Linked DNA regions of Homo sapiens: region 1 is linked to region 2. The links come from fine-mapping of genetic effects on gene expression. A gene starts in region 2. The other region holds a variant in brackets. All regions are shown on one strand. Distances are between the middles of the regions. Region 1 overlaps ATP13A2 (ATPase cation transporting 13A2). Region 2 holds the start of ATP13A2 (ATPase cation transporting 13A2).

Region 1 (5,364 bases), 23 kb after region 2:
GACCTCTGATCCAGGTCTGCCCACCCTCCAGGGACACTGTGGAAGGAGACCTGAGCCTCCTGGGGCTGCTGGTCATGAGGAACCTACTGAAGCCGCAGACAACGCCAGTTATCCAGGCTCTGCGAAGGACCCGCATCCGCGCCGTCATGGTGACAGGTACAATGGCATGTAGGGGCCCGGGCTAGCAGGGCAGAATCCGCCCCTTCCTGGCAGAGAAGAGGGGCACCAGGGATTCCTTTTTGGGGCATCTTTTTGGGCCCTTGCTTCAGGCCAGGTCCTTTTTAAACATTTCGTGAATCTTCACAATATCCCCCCCGCAAGTGGTAATTGTCACCCCTGTTTGACAGATGAGGAAACTGAGACTCAGAGGAGTGGAGTGACTTCCAAGGAACCCATGTGCGCTGTCAGACAGCCTGGGTTCCAGGTGGCACCTCTGAGAAATGGGGATAATGATGTCAGCCTCAGAGGCTGTGACAAGCTCAAGGAGCAGGAAGAGAAAGATTCTGGCCGGGCACGGTACTTCATGCCTGTAATCCCAGCACTTTGGGAGGCCAAAGGAGAAGGATGTCTTGAACCCTGGAGTTCAAGACCAACCTGGGCAACATGGCAAAACTCCGTCTCTACAAAGAATACGAAAATGGCCGGGCACAGTGTCTCACGCCTGTAATCCCAGCACTTTGGGAGGCCGACGCGGGCGGATCACTTGAGGTCAGGAGTTCGAGACCAACCTGGCCAACATAGTGAAACCCCGTCTCTACTAAAAATACAAAAAATTAGCCAGGTATGGTGGTGGATGCCTGTAATCCCAGCTACTCGGGAGGCTGAGGCAGGAGAATCACTTCAACCCGGGAGGTGGAGGTTGCAGTGAGCTGAGATCACGCCATTTCACTCCAGCCTGGGCAACAGAGAGAGACCCAGTCTCAAAAAAAAAAAGATTCTAGCTAGGGTGAGACAGCAGGAGCTAAGAGGTCTGTGTCCTTGTCCTCCCCGCCCCTGCACACACACATATGTGCACACACATTCATGGGCACTTGGCAGCAGAGTCACACAGCAGTAAGGAGTATATGTAGCCTGGGCACATGGCTCGTGCCTGTAATCCCAGCACTCCGGGAGGCCGAGGCAGGGGGATCACCTGAGGCCAGGAGTTCAAGACCAGACTGGCCAACATGGTGAAACCCCATCTCTACTAAAAATGCAAAAAAAATTAGCCTGGTGTGGTCGCACCCTCCTGTAATCCCAGCTACTCAAGAGGCTGAGGCAGGAGAATTGCTTGAGCCCAGGAGGAAGGAGGTTGCAGTGAGCCGAGATCAAGCCACTGCACTCCAGCCTGGGCCACAGAGAGAGACTCTTGTCTTAAAAAAAGAAAAAAAAGGAGTATATGTGGAGCTCCAGCCCACGGCTCCAGGTTCTCCTAAGACCCTTCAATGCCTGGATCTACAGATGAGAAAACTGAGGCAAAGGGATGTTGGTAACCTGCCTCAGCTCACTTGGCTGGTGGTGGCAGACGGATTTCATCCAGCCTGTTTTCCCATCTGTAAGGATCAGGATGAGGATGGCCTCCCCGGATAGCCTCAGACCCTCACCTTGCCCCATAACCCCCAGGGGACAACCTGCAGACAGCGGTGACTGTGGCCCGGGGCTGTGGCATGGTGGCCCCCCAGGAGCATCTGATCATCGTCCACGCCACCCACCCTGAGCGGGGTCAGCCTGCCTCTCTCGAGTTCCTGCCGATGGAGTCCCCCACAGCCGTGAATGGCGTTAAGGTGAGGCTAACCCAGAGTTCCAGCTGTACCTCACCCAGTGACCCCACCCCTGTGTCACCTGACCCAGGCCCCAACTCTCCAGGGTGGGCAGGGGGAGCTAAGCTGAGCTTCCTGGGCCCCCAGGATCCTGACCAGGCTGCAAGCTACACCGTGGAGCCAGACCCCCGATCCAGGCACCTGGCCCTCAGCGGGCCCACCTTTGGTATCATTGTGAAGCACTTCCCCAAGCTGCTGCCCAAGGTAGGGCCGCCCCCAGCTCCCTGGCCGCCCTGCGCCTCCCCTGCTCTGTCTCCTTCCTCACGGCTCGCTCTCCCTGGTGGGTGCCTCAGCCCTCCCCCATCTCCCTGTGCTCCCAGGTCCTGGTCCAGGGCACTGTCTTTGCCCGCATGGCCCCTGAGCAGAAGACAGAGCTGGTGTGCGAGCTACAGAAGCTTCAGTGAGTGCTCGGCAGAGGGTGTGGGCAAGGGCCTGCGGAGACTGAGCTTGTCCGTTCGTCTGTTCATCTGTCCTTCCCCAGGGCCCTGTCTCCCTCCTCAGGCACCAGAGAGCTGTCACCCCTCCTCACCAAAAGCAGGCAGGCTCTCCCAGGTCTTTCATGCTAAAAATAATAATTGTAGGCTGGGTGCGGTGGCTCATTCCTGTAATCCCACCTCTTTGAGTGGCCGAGGTGGGAGGATCACTTGAGCCCAGGAGTTTGAGGCCAGCCTGGGCAACAAAGTGAGACCCCATCTCTTATTAAAAATTTAAAAATTAGCCAGGTGTGGTGACACACCGGTCATCCCAGCTACTCAAGAGGCTGAGGCAGGAGGGTTGCTTGAGCCTGGGAGGCTGCGGCTGCAGTGAGCCATGATCACACCACTGCACTTCAGCCTGGGCAACAGAGCGAGACTCCGTCTCAAAAAATAGTAATAGGCCAGGCGCGGTGGCTCATGCCAGTAATCCCAGCGCTTTGGGAGGCTGAGGCAGGCAGATCACCTGAGGTCAGGAGTTCAAGACCAGCCTGGCCAACATGGTGAAACCCTGTCTCTACTAAAAATACAAAAATTAGTTGGGCATGGTGGCGCACACCAGTAATCCCAGCTACTCAAGAGGCTGAGGGCACTTGGGCAGCAGAGGAGGTTGTAGTGAGCAGAGATCACGCCACTGCACTCTAGCCTGGGCAACAGAGGGAGACTCTGTCTCAAAAAATAATAGGC[C/T]GGGCACGGTGGCTCATGCCTGTAATCCCAGCACTTTGGGAGGCCGAGGCGGGTGGATCACCTGAGATCAGGAGTTTAAGACCAGCCTGGCCAACATGGTGAAACCCCATCTCTACTAAAAATACAAAAAATTAGCCAGGCGTGGTGGCGGGCGTCTGTAATCCCAGCTACTTGGGAGGCTGAAGCAGGAGAATCACTTGAGCCCAGGAGGCAGAGGTTGCAGTGAGCTGAGATCATGCCATTACACTCCAGCCTGGGCAACAAGAGTGAAACTCCGTCTCAAAAAATAATAATAATAATGATAATAATAATAATAATTGCATCTATTCACTGAGCGCCTCCTGTACACCAGGCACCATGTGGCATTAGGGGCCCAGCTGTCATCATATTCTGCCAGCCCACCCATGGGGTGGTGGGGTAATTCCCCAGGCCACACCTGTCCACACCTCTCTTCAGGTACTGCGTGGGCATGTGCGGAGACGGCGCCAATGACTGTGGGGCCCTGAAGGCGGCTGATGTCGGCATCTCGCTGTCCCAGGCAGAAGCCTCAGTGGTCTCACCCTTCACCTCGAGCATGGCCAGTATTGAGTGCGTGCCCATGGTCATCAGGTAAGGCAGGCAGGGACCGGTGGGTGAGGGCTCAGCAGGGCTGGTCAGCCAACCTGGGTCCCCTAATGTCCGTGCCCTGCCACCCAGGGAGGGGCGCTGTTCCCTTGACACTTCGTTCAGCGTCTTCAAGTACATGGCTCTGTACAGCCTGACCCAGTTCATCTCCGTCCTGATCCTCTACACGGTGAGTATCTGCAGAGCTCCGTACCCAGAGCCGTCCCAGGACTAGGGAGGGGACACAGCCCTGTGCCTTGGAGCTGGCAGGTCCCAGAATAGATGACGTGGGCCCAGATCCTGACCCTGCCACTCTCCGGCTGTGTGGTTGGAGAGGTGGCAAGGCTTGGGGGAGATGAGAAAAACACCAGGCACGGAGCCTGGTACCCACTAGGTCCTCACAAATGGCAGCAGCTGTCATGGGCTAACATCTTGACCGCAACTCTGGGAGCTCCCCAATCTGCAGGGAAGACTGAACGGAGGCAGGGCCAAAACCCTCGCCCCCGCCCCATCCCCACAGGTCTGCCCATTTCCCCAGATGCACTTGCTTTGCCCCATACCTTGGCTGTACCTCCCACACCCTACTTGGAGGAGCTCTCCCCTCCCCTGCTCTGGGCATGGCCTGCTCACCCCCAGCGAATGAGGTGACACTGCAGGGCGGCGCACATCTTATACTTGGGTCTGTCCCTGTGTCTGCCTGAAAGCGAGGAGCTCCCTGAGGGCAGGAACTGTGCATGCCCTGGTAGCTATAGGGACTCCGCAAGGCAGAGCCGAAGCCTCCCCTTCGGGCCGGGAGTTTGTTACAGGGAGGGAAACCTCCCCTCAGATTTAGGCCCCCAAGGTCAGCACAGGTGCCCTTTCCATCAGACCAGGGGTTTGTCTCACATCAAGAGCGGCACCTCCTCCGCTGGGCTGGCAGGAGAGTACGGCCCCCATTAGACTGGGGGATGCCTTACCCATCAGATTCCTTCGGGGCAGGGGTGGGGCCTCTGCTATCAGACTAGGGGCTGCCAGGGCCAGGTCTTAGTTTCCCCTCTGTCCTCCCTTCCCTGTGGCAGATCAACACCAACCTGGGTGACCTGCAGTTCCTGGCCATCGACCTGGTCATCACCACCACAGTGGCAGTGCTCATGAGCCGCACGGGGCCAGCGCTGGTCCTGGGACGGGTGCGGCCACCGGGGGCGCTGCTCAGCGTGCCCGTGCTCAGCAGCCTGCTGCTGCAGATGGTCCTGGTGACCGGCGTGCAGCTAGGGGGCTACTTCCTGACCCTGGCCCAGCCATGGTGAGTAGGGAGCTGACTGACCACCCCCATCCCGCCCCTTCCCTGTCCACCCCACGTTCGTTCCCTGACCCCCATCCCTGTACCCCCAGGTTCGTGCCTCTGAACAGGACAGTGGCCGCACCAGACAACCTGCCCAACTACGAGAACACCGTGGTCTTCTCTCTGTCCAGCTTCCAGTACCTCATCCTGGCTGCAGCCGTGTCCAAGGGGGCGCCCTTCCGCCGGCCGCTCTACACCAATGGTGCCACTGCGGGCGCGGGCGGGAGATGCTGGCGGAGGGAGGGAGGAGCCCTGGGGTGCTGGGGAGGCAGATGGGAGAGAGGTGCCGGCCGAGTGGAAGACTGGCGTGCACACGTGTGTCTGTGGGTGCCGGGGGGGCGTGGCTCCTGCCTGAGAGACTCTCCTGCTCCCAGTGCCCTTCCTGGTGGCCCTGGCGCTCCTGAGCTCCGTCCTGGTGGGCCTTGTCCTGGTCCCCGGCCTCCTGCAGGGGCCGCTGGCGCTGAGGAACATCACTGACACC
Region 2 (5,365 bases):
TACTATGTGAAAGGCCCTCGAGTGAATGCTGGGAGGCTGCAAGAGTAATTCCTTCCCAACCCTGAGTTGACAGCTGGCATGTTTCTGACATGACTGGCCAGAGCTAGAGGCCTCCCTGTTGGGAGGATGGTTTTTCCGTGCAAGGCTAATATTGCTTATTTCTCATCTCTCCCGTCACACTGCTCAGGTCAGGGAGGGACTCCCATTGGTCAAATTCTCTTCAGGCCCCTTCCCTTCCTGGCACCAGGATAACTACCATACAAAGTGCTGAAACTCGGCCAGGCACAGTGGCTCACTCCTGTAATCCCACTTTGGGAGACCAAGGTGGATCTCTGAAGCACAGGAGTTCGAGACCAGCCTGGGTAACATGGCAAACCCCATCTCTACAAAAAAAAAAAACAGAAAAATTAGCTGGGTGTGGTAGTGCTCACCTGTAGTCCCAGGTACACAGAAGGCTGAGGTGGGAGGATCACTTGAGCCGAGGTGGGAGGATCACTTGAGCCCAGGAGGTCGAGGCTGCAGTGAGCTGAGATCATGCCACTGTGCTCCAACCTGGGCAGCAGAGAGAGACCCTGTCTCAAAACAAACAAACAAAAAAAACAAAAACAAAAACTGAAACCCCACTTTACTGTGTGTCTAGACAGCCATAATCCTACCAACAGGGTTTGTTACTAGGTGAAAAAAATCCTCTTTTGTTGCAAAAATCTAGTGAAACTAGAGAAGTCGAAAAGTAAAGCAATGCTCTGGAATAAACTCGCCCAAATTAGTGATTTCTCAAGCTTTTTGCCACTGGGACCAGGCCTATTACGCCCTCTCCGTGGGTTCCCAAGAGAGCCACAGCCTAGAAGGGAAGCTGTTCAGTCGGTTCTCACCCACGTGGGACTGGAAATTTCAGACACGGTTATCCGGGAAGACAGCCTGGGCCACAGACCTCCTCGATGACCACACACCGAGAGCCACTTCCCCAAAGGTAACCCCAAGCAGATGGCAAGGCCTCCCACATGCTCTGTGGTTTGGAAGGAAGCTTCCTCTGGCCTCCTCCCTCATTAAGGAGAAGGGACGAGCTGCAGGTGCGGCTCCTTCCCAGCTGGCTCAGGGAATAGAGCCCCTTTAAGGCCAGGCAGCCTTAGCAATAAAAAGAATGAAGGGGGCACCCTTGCAAGGCAGTCCCCCATGCAGTCCCCAAGCCCTCTGCTTTTATTTATTTATTTATTTATTTATTTATTTATTTATTTATTTTAGAGGGAGTCTCAGTCTTTCACCCAGACTGGAGTACCTCTGCTTTTATGAAGCCGCTAATCCAGTGCCAGGATCTAAAGCAAGCAGCTGGCTTCTACCAAGTTCCTGCCATCTCATTTCATCCTCTCCATGCCTTCCATTTTGTAGGTGAGGGGAAGGAGAGCCTTAGAGAAGGAAAGTGACATTTTAAAGCTCACACAGCTAGAAAGCAACTCATGCATCCATGTCTTTCTGATGCCAGAACCCAGCCCCTTGCCACTGTACCATACTGCCTCTTGCCAAGGCCACCTGGGCTAGCCATTTCCAAACCCAGCCTTCCTGCTGCCCTGGAGGCTGGGTTCCTGCCAGAAATTGAGCTAAGCCCTGGGGGAGGACATGGGAGTTCTGAAAAGTTAAGCAGCCTGCCTCCCCTGGAAGTGTCACCGGAAGATGAAAGAACTCTTGTCACCTGACCCAAGGAAGCCAGTCCCATGGCCCAGGTGGTCAACAGGAATGACCCGCAACTGGTTGGCTCGGGCAGCCTGCCCCAGCTGAGTAAATGGCTCCACTGGCACCCAGCTGCTCAGGCCAAAACCCTGGGGAGCATCTTGAATTCCACACATTCCTGCACCCCCACATCCTATCCACCAGCAAGTCCTGCCAACGTGTGTTCCTGTACCAAATGTTCACTGGGATCTTGCTATGAATCAGGTGCTGCTTTCCCTCCTGGGGTCTATCCCCTACCCACACCCTCACCACCATCACAGCTGTGTCTCCTTCCAGCCCCTTCCACAATAGGGATCGTTGGAGTTTTCCTTTCCTTGACTAGGGCTACTTCCCAGTAGACAGCAGTCTCCGCAGGGACAGGGGCATCTCTGTTTTGTTCACTCTCACGTTCCTGGCTCCCACAGTGGTGCTGGCACTCCATAAATTCATACTGGACAAATGACCAGTGATCCTGCCCACGTCTATCCTTGGCCCTAACGTGAACCTTCCCTTGTTTGCCCTAGGATCTCACAGATCCACTCTCCCCTTTGGAGCTCCTCTGTCCAGAGGTCCTGGAGACAGGGAACACTATGCCTGTGCCGGTCACTATGGGGTAGCAGGATAAATGCTGCACGCAGGTAAGACATCTCTGGTGCCTTTCAGGGGTCTTCATGAATCCCCCCAGTGCAGGTGTGTCTGCAGGTCACGCTGTGAGGCTTCTCTTTCTCTGGCATTTCAAGGCCTCCAGTGCATCATGGCAGACTCTCCCTGGGTCTCTGTGGGCCCACATCTGACCCTGTGAATCTCTGGGCAGGTGTGTCTTCCTTCTTTGCATTCATCAAGCAGCGCCAGGCACTGTCTCAAGTGCTTGATACGCATTTTCTTTTTTTTTTTTTTTTGAGACAGAGTTTCGCTCTTTTTGCCCATGCTGGAGTGCAATGGCATGATCCCGGCTCACAGCAACCTCCGCCTCCTGGGTTCAAGCGATTCTCCTGGCTTAGTCTCCGAGTAGCTGGGATTACAGGCATGCGCCACCACGCCCAGTTGACAAGCATTTTCTTGTGTGATCCTCGCAGCAGTTCTCTGTGAAGCAGGCATTGCTATCCTACAGGTTGGGAAAAGAGGGCCAGAGAGGATCAGTGACTTGCTCACGGTCGCGCGGCCTGGAAGACATGGAGAGCTGGACCAGCACGCACAGTCCCTAACCACTGGGACGTGCTGGCGGGGGCTACCTCCGTGAGGTGTGTGTCTCCGGTCGCCCCGCCCCCGGTGTGTGCGGAGGAGCAGGCGGGGACTACAAGTCCCGGCAGCCCCGGCGCGGGCGCTGCGAGGGCCGCAGAGGGCCGGGCGGGGCTTGCGGCGCGCACGGAGGGACTGCGGCAGTGTCGGAGCCGCGCCGAGCCTGGTGGCCCAGGTGCCCCGCCCGCGTCAGCCCTGCTCCAGCCCCGCGCTAGCCCAGCGCCCCTCGCCCCGGGCCGTCCGGACCGCGCCCCCGCCCAGGGCCTTGCGCACGCCGGGGCCCAGGCCGAGGGCCGCAGCGCCGGGGCCGGCGATGAGCGCGAGGAGCCGGCATGAGCGCAGGTGAGTGCGGAGTCCGGGTCGGCCCCGAGCCCGGCGCGGTCCCCGGCCCGCCAGTTGTCGTCACCCCTTGGAGGGAGAGGGGAGGCGACGCCCCCCACCGCGGGGTCGCGAGCCCAGGAAGCGGGACCTGGTTGGGGATCCTGGCCCGTCCCCTCCCTTTTGACGGGGACTCGGCCCCGGTTTCTTCCCAGAGACGCCGGGGCTGGGGATGGCGCCGCCGCTCGCAGCCGGTCCCTCCCCTCCCCTGCACCCCTCAGCCGCGGGATTGGAAGCCGGGCGCTTGTGCAAGAGGGTCCTGGGGCCGTGCGGGGACGGGGAGGCCACCCCACGCCCACTTAATCGGATCCCACCCCGAGTGACGGATGTCCAGGTGGGGGAGACGGCTGCATCCTCGGGCCTCTGGGCAACCCCTCTGGGCTGAATGAATGAATGAATGGCGTTGGGGGAGTCGGGACTCCATTTCCTGGGTAGATGTCCTGGGCCACAGCGCCACTCCTGACCTCCTGCCTCAGACCCCAGAGAAAACCCGTCACACCCAGGGCCAAGGGCCACACCCTCCATGCAACCCATCCCTGGCCAGATGTCCTACGCCCACTCCTCCAGGGTCTAATTTAAATCCCACCTGCCGGGAATGGGGCCAGTCCTCCTCCCCTATCCAGAAAGGTCTCATCTCAGTGTCTGTCACTCAGCCCCCAGCCCCACAGCCTAGAGTGCACCCCCCGGCGAGGGAGGGGAAGGAATGAGGAAAGACAGCCCCTAGAATCCAGATCCAAAGATGGGAAGATGGTTCACACACACTCCCGCCTCAGCCTGGCAGAAGACAGGAGCTCCCCGCCGCCGGGAACCACAGCCAGGGAGGAGGCAGCCGCCCTGGGCCGCTGCCAGGTCACCAGCAGGAAGCCAAGGCTTCCGCAGGAAATAAGAGGTCCCAAATGGCTCTAGCCCCTCTGATCCACAGTGCTGGTGACACTGCCCCGAGCTGTGACCTCAGACGAGGTTCAAGTCCAGTCTTGGCCCCTCATAGCTGTGTGACTTTGTGCTTGTCAATCTACTCCTCTGGGCCTCGTTTTAAATGGGAATCCTAATCTGTACTTTTCATGGAATGGCTGTGGGAAAGAATGTGCCCATTCAGACACACTCATTTCCAGCTTCTCCCCTTTCAAGCTCTATGACCCTGGACAAGGGATTCACATGCTGTTCCTCAGTTTCCCCAGGTGTACAATGGGGATAATAATAGTCACTACCCCAGAGGGTTGTGTGTGAAGCTTCATTGAGTTAGCACACTGAAGGGCTTCCGCAGGGCATGGTGAGCACTCCATGGGAGCTGCTGTTCATCAGAAGAGCAATGACAGGCCAGGCGTGGTGGCTCACGCCTGTAATCCCAGCACTTTGGGAGCCTGAGGCAGGCGGATTACTTGAGGTCAGGAGTTCAAGACCAGTCTGGCCAACATGGGGAAACCCCGTCTCTACTAAAAATACAAAAATTAGCTGAGTGTGGTGGCATGTGCCTGTAGTCTCAGCTACTTCAGGAACTGAGGCAGGAGAATTGCTTGAACCTGGGAGGTGGAGGGTGCAGTGAGCTGAGATCTCTCCACTGCACTCCAGCCTGGGAGACGGGCAGGGGGGAAGGGGGGAACGGGGGGGGAAGACTCCATCTCAAAAAAAAGAGCAATGCCATCATGAAGGTGCTCTCGCCCCCCCACACAGCCTGTGGGTGCCTGTTCTGGGCTGGTCTGAGCCCACAGAAGCCCTGGGGAGACTGGGCTGTGGCTGGGGATAAACAGATGTACTGCAGGAGAGAGTGCCCTGGGCTTGATCCCTGCAGGGAGGGGCTCTGGAGGTTTCCACAGCTGTGACTTCCTCCCTCAAGTTCCACTCCCCTTTTCCTCTTTGCCAAGGTTGACTGAGAGAGTGTCATTGTGAAGTGACAGTCATACGATTGCCATGAGGAAGAACTTCCCAGGGGGACCGCTGTTTACATACTGGGGACTCTGCCCTCTTTTTGAAGAACCTTTTCTTCATAAAGAGTCTTGAGGCCGGGTGTGGTGGCTCACACCTGTAATCCCAGCACTTTGGGAGG

What was found. PIP is the estimated chance that this variant, and not a neighbour inherited with it, causes the effect. A credible set is the group of variants that fine-mapping cannot tell apart.
Region 1: its variant is the best candidate, but not a certain one, in a credible set for the expression of ATP13A2 in lung (TOPMed, PIP 0.77).

What each region holds. Positions count from the first base shown.
Region 1 is chr1:16,986,526-16,991,889 of GRCh38, reverse strand. It overlaps ATP13A2 (ATPase cation transporting 13A2), which reads left to right. Exons shown (of 29, transcript NM_022089.4): 20 at 32-156; 21 at 1,603-1,763; 22 at 1,887-2,003; 23 at 2,120-2,199; 24 at 3,416-3,568; 25 at 3,656-3,752; 26 at 4,621-4,844; 27 at 4,934-5,085; 28 at 5,258-5,364. Among named protein-coding and RNA genes, the nearest start is that of MFAP2, 8.6 kb to the right of the region's middle. The variant C/T (reference allele first, on the strand shown) is at 2,960.
Region 2 is chr1:17,009,649-17,015,013 of GRCh38, reverse strand. ATP13A2 (ATPase cation transporting 13A2) reads left to right here and starts at 3,086. Exons shown (of 29, transcript NM_022089.4): 1 at 3,086-3,285. The coding sequence starts at 3,276. RefSeq lists a silencer at 2,922-3,451 and enhancers at 3,942-3,991, 4,755-4,834.